Linked DNA regions of Homo sapiens: region 1 is linked to region 2. Evidence: fine-mapped expression QTL. A gene starts in region 2. The other region holds a variant in brackets. All regions are shown on one strand. Distances are between the middles of the regions.

Evidence for each region. PIP is the estimated chance that this variant, and not a neighbour inherited with it, causes the effect.
Region 1: its variant is fine-mapped to the expression of PREX2 in pancreas (GTEx, PIP 0.97).

The regions. Positions count from the first base shown.
Region 1 is chr8:67,836,412-67,839,235 of GRCh38, forward strand. No RefSeq gene overlaps it. Among named protein-coding and RNA genes, the nearest start is that of CPA6, 91 kb to the left of the region's middle. The variant C/A (reference allele first, on the strand shown) is at 1,664.
Region 2 is chr8:67,950,667-67,953,490 of GRCh38, forward strand. It overlaps PREX2 (phosphatidylinositol-3,4,5-trisphosphate dependent Rac exchange factor 2), which reads left to right and starts at 1,380. Exons shown (of 40, transcript NM_024870.4): 1 at 1,380-1,869. The coding sequence starts at 1,729.

The DNA of each region.
Region 1 (2,824 bases), 110 kb before region 2:
GTCAAGGATGAAGTTTCTCGAGCCTCTTACTTGGAGAATCCTTTCCTCCCCTCCCCTCCCCTCCTTTTTTCTCTCTTCTCCCCTCCTCTCCTCTCCTCCCCTCTCTTCTCTTCTTTTCCTTCCCTCCCTTCTTTCCTCCCTACCTCCATTCCTTCCTTCCTCCCTTCCTCCTCTCCTCCCTTCCTCCCCTTTTGCCTTCCTTCCTCCCTCCCTTCCTTCCTTCCTGTTTTATTTTTGCTTGCTATGTTATAGACCAAGGGAAAAAGAGAAGTTTCTTTTTAGGTATCCATTGGGAAAATGATATTTTCTTCACAAATTACTCTCTAGACAGTTGTCACATCTGATTCTTTTCAGTGTGCCTAGGAGCCCCAATCTGTCTTGAACAAACTATCCTTTATCTTAACTACTCTTTCAAATACTTCAAAAAACACCCTCGTATCTCTTTAGCTTTGTACTCCTTTCTCTCTCCATGGAAGAGACCACTGGCTCTGGAGCCTGTGGCCAATTTTGTCCTTAGTCTTCAATATTCAAGTGCTTCTGCTCTACGTCAACCTCACTCTGACTTTGTGTCTCAATTTTCATAGTTGGGGGTTAACACCCAGCTCTCTGTTTGTCCTCTCATTCCAGCAGCCTCATGACCCATTCCTCTTGCTGGAGCCCCTGCATCAAATACCTGTCTAATGTGCTGGTCACCTGGAACAGGTCACGCCTCATCCTTGTCAATTCTCACTCCTTGGAAGGTGAAACGTCAGATGTGCATAATGCTGTCTGTTGCCTGGATCTCTACAGATTGTTGGCTCACATTCACCCTTTGGGTCGTCTAATTTTGATAATATTCTTTTACTTCTTTAGGCCAGCCTGATGTCAGCTCCTGGCCTAGCTTTCCATCTGTTGATTGTCATTACCTTGTCTGGAATCCATCTACCTAAATAAACTTATTACCATTTTGGAAAGTGGGTCTGGCCACCAAGTAGGTATTTCTAGCTCCAGACCTTGACTTTTCTGTTCTGTCCAATCTATTGAAAGGTGTTCAAGCTCTCGACCTCGTTCCCCATCCCCATACCTGAATCCAGGCTTCCCCATGGTGATGCCATTGTTTTGTGCCACTCAGTTGCGACTCTTGCCCTGATTCACTTGGTAGGAAGAAGAGGCTCAAACCTTTGTCTACACTGGTGCTTCCAGACCATGTATCTCTTCACCATTTTGCTTTACATCTGCACTTGCAAATGCTAAATCCTTTATCTGGCCCTTGTCCCCTCAAGCCTGATCTATTGCAGTTCACTCCAACTGTTTTGTCTGCCTTGTTTTTTCCACTCTCTTCACACACCTATTCGCCTATGATACTCTGTCAAAGTTATCTCTCTAAAAGAAAACAGAAACAAAAACAAACATCTTTTCTGCTAAGAACTCCCTCTCCTGCTCAAAGTCCCCAGTGGTTTTCTATTTCTTGGAAGGAATCATGATCCTTGTCCTGAAGTCATGGCTGCCTCCTGGTTTTGATGTGCCCATTGATGTTGACTTAGCTGTCCTTTTGCAAAATGTGCGTAGGAATGTCATTCCATCAAGGCAAGCCTTTGAGAAGATGACACATAAAAGTTGTTTGGAGACTTTTGAGCATCTCATTTGTCACATAAATATTTAGTAATAGCAATAGTAAACATAA[C/A]CCTGTTCCCAAGGAGAAATAATTGAGAACTGACCCTGACTGCAGTATCTGGAGGATGACAGATCTTGTTGTTCTTTGATCACAGAACTTTGTCATACGTATACATCTAGCACATATCACTGTAGTATGGTGTGAGTGCTACATGTCATGGGTTATAAGATCACAAAATTCAATGAAAGGAAGGAAGTATAGGAAAAGTAATGAGATCGTCTAAGTAATAAATGCAGTGTGACAGTCATGGCATTGAAGATGAAATCAAATATGCATGGTTAATAGCATTGGTGGAAACTTCCTCTTCTGCTAGATGTTTTATTCTTAATAAATCTTAACCAGATGCATGTATGTTTGCTACATTGCCATTTTAATGTGAAACTGACTTTTCTAACCAACTCTTTTCCTGCAATACTTAGTATCAGTTGCTACCATCCCTGACCAGCATGATATCATATGGAAGTTGTTTTTGACTGAGGAAAATTTTCAATGTATCAGTCATGTAAAATGAATACAGATAACTCATCATGCTTATTCTGTCATTCGATTCTGGCCTGTCTGTAACCCTACTTTAGTTTTCATTATACTTACCCCTTGAATGAATTAAGAAAAACTTGTTAAAATTACTCGTGAACAGTTTGCTCCGATGCTATAAGCAAAGTATTTGATAGATTAGTAGCTCTGACTCTCAGATGCAAAATTCATGAACTTGAATTCTTTTTCCAACTTTTTTTTCCCTAGGTCTTTCACATGTTCCTGACCTTGATTTTAAATTTTAACTTAGCTCTACTGAATCTATGATATTTGGACTATGTGCTAATTGTCAAATTAAAGGTACTTTCTTCTCACATAATGATGCCTTTTGTACATTATAAAGTAAAAGGAGAAGACTATACATCCATTTTTAAATGCTCTAATTTCTTTCTAACATTCTTAAATTGATATGCCATTGTTGTACATTTTTGGTGGGCACATAACTGCTCTAATTTCTTACACACATACATATAACAACATGTCAATGGTTGTTATCCTCCAGTGATGGTGGTATGGTAGCAGACATTTGTGGTTTGGCTCCCATCCCCATTCTTTCTCCTTCAGGCTTTAGCCCCCAGTCTCACTAATGGTATCAAGGTCTCCACTACTTGTAGCCCTTGTGGTCTGGGAAGTGGG
Region 2 (2,824 bases):
GCTTCTTTTGTTTATTGTTTACTAGGTGCTGTGAGGTCTGCTCTTTAATATGCTTTGCCCTTTGTTCTTCTGCCACAGGGTGTGAAGCCATCTATGTTGTTTGCCCTTTGCTCTTGGCTACCTCTAAATAGTCATTTGTAAAAGAAAGAGGAAAATCACATCTTGCCCATCAGCTTTGTGTACATCATTCGAAAATTTTATCTTTAATATACAAAGAAAGTACAATCCTTCTTTGTGTGGTTACAGAGGGGAATGGTCACACTATGCTCTGGAAAGACATCATCTGGAAAACCAATAGGTAATTATTTTAATGTAAATATAGTGAAAAGCATCTTTATGTTTTAGAGTTTTGCTAATGCTTTCAGTGACTGCAACAAATTAACATACCACTTTCTTGCAACAACTCTATTCACTCTTCAGTTTATTTAAATGCCATTAGTTTTAGACTGAAGTTGATCTGTGGAAAATATATGTGTATAATACCAATTCAAAAAAATATATAAATTGTTTTGTTTGTTAAATGTATTGGAAATATTTAAGGCTTAGTTTCCAAGTGAGAAAAGGCAATAAACTTTAACTTTAAAATCAAGAATGTTCTGTGTGTCTATCTTCAAAAATCTAAGATTATTTCCGTTATCTATCTAGCTTTCTATCTTCTGATGAGCATTCAACAACAGCTTTATCTTTTCAATTAGTGACACCGTCTTAAATCACAGCAGCTCTTAGAAACAAAACTGGCACAAATACCCTCGCCTCTCAATGGATTTACATACTATCTTGATGTTGAAAAAAGTTGTAGACATGGAAAACAGCACAGTACAAGGGTGATGCTTATTTTATCTGGGGTTTATTGCATGGGCAGAGGCTGTCATTTTCCCATAGTGTCTTCATTTATTATGCTAATTGACTTTCCAAGCTCAGACTGGAGGGTGTCTGCCCTGTGAACTATTCTCAGTTGGAGGGTTTTAAAAGCAAACCTGTTTTGTGCCTGAATGAAACAAAAAATCAATGTGTTTCTTTTCAAAGAGGGAGGGTCAATACCGTGGTTGTTTTTGTTCCCATCCAGTTATGTAACCGTGGGGACTTGTTTCTTTGCTTTCAGGATTTGTACGAAACACATTAAAGTTAAACAATAGCGGAGGCTTAGGAGTAACCCTCGAGCTGCGCCTTGGAGTGTGTGTCCCTGGGATTGGGAACCTCCTGTGAGTTCCATATCAAGTGCTGCTGTGTGTGTGTGTGTGTGTGTGTGTGCGTGTGTGTGTGTGTGTGCGCGCGCGCGCGTGTGTGTGATTAGCCAGTACGCAGTACTTCCCCAGGGTTGTGTTTCCTTTTTCCTGAGATTTGGCGAAGGGTAAAGGGTCGGAGTCACATGGATACAAAGCTTTTGATTAATGTCCAAGTCACTGCTGTGGCTGCCGAAGCCGCTTCCCCTCCAGCCCCGGCCGTGTGAGGCCAGAGCAGCGGGGCCGGGCGCGCAGGGCCTGGCCGGAGCCCCCACTCCCAGGAGTTTCCTCTGCAGAGCCCCGCGCCCCCCGCGCCGGGATTTCAGCCCGATCCCCTCCTCTCCCTGCGCCCAGCCTCTCCCCAGCATGTAAAGTCTTCTGTCTCTCCTCGGAGTTGGCGGAGGCGGCAACTTTCCATTCTCGCCGCCGGGGGCCGGGCAGCAGCGGGCGCGCGGGTCAGCGCTCAGCACGGCGGGCAGCGCCGCGCTGCGCACCGCCGCCGACCATGAGCGAGGACAGCCGCGGAGACAGCCGCGCCGAGAGCGCCAAGGACCTGGAGAAGCAGCTTCGCCTGCGCGTGTGCGTGCTCAGCGAGCTCCAGAAGACCGAGCGGGACTATGTGGGCACGCTGGAGTTCCTGGTGTCGGTGAGTGTCCCCGGCAGACGCAGGGGGACGTCCGGGCGGCGCGGGGCGCGGGTCCCGGAGTGGCTGCGGGAAGGACGCGCGGCATTGTCTGTGCGGGGACCCGGGACGGGTCGGGGCATCACAGGCGCGGGAATCCACGTGTGGACTCTGCGTTCGCGGGCGCGGTGACCCCCGCGGGGATTTGTTGGTGCCCCGAGACTCACTGAGTTGCGGGGGCCTTGGAGACCTCCAGGTCTGAAAAGTTAGCTCTAGAGAAGAGAGCTCCAGTCCAGGGAATCCCGGCTGCCCTATCTTCCCTCACTTTTCTTTTACCCGCCTCCCCAGTCTGCTCAAGTGCACTGTGTAATTGATTTTCCTTCTTGTTCTTTCCTGGAGACTTTGTTTTAAAGCTTTGGTTTTGTGATTAAAGGTCCAGTCGGCTACATCCAGGTACACTAAGTTAAAAAAAATCCTTGAATGTGCTCGAGCTTGAGTTCGTTACTCAGATAACATGGCAGTGGCCGCTTTAGTTATGGTCTTTGAGACAGAGGATTCTGGTGTAGGGGTACAGAGAGAGCAGCGGGGTGATGATCTCTAGCAGCTGTTGGATATTAAAGCCACATGTGGCGCTCACCCTGTCCTAGTCTTACAATTCCCTCCCCCCCGCCCCCCGCCCCGGCTTAAATCTGTCTTCTGCTCAGTTTCTGGTCCCCTGTTTACATGGCCCATGAGAGTGCTGTAATCAAGCTTCGGGACTTCGTGGAAGTGGGGATGTACTTATATTCCACGTTTCTGCTTGACTCACTGCCATCTGCTTTGAAAACGTCTCATTCATTTTAGGGCCGAAGGGGCAAAACTGAGTGAAAGTAACTGCTGAGATAACACTCAAAAGTTGAATTTTTCCTATTCATTGCTGAAAAGACAAAGAATTTGAGCCTTGGCTTCTTTCCACCCAGATTCCTGGGAGAGCATCATT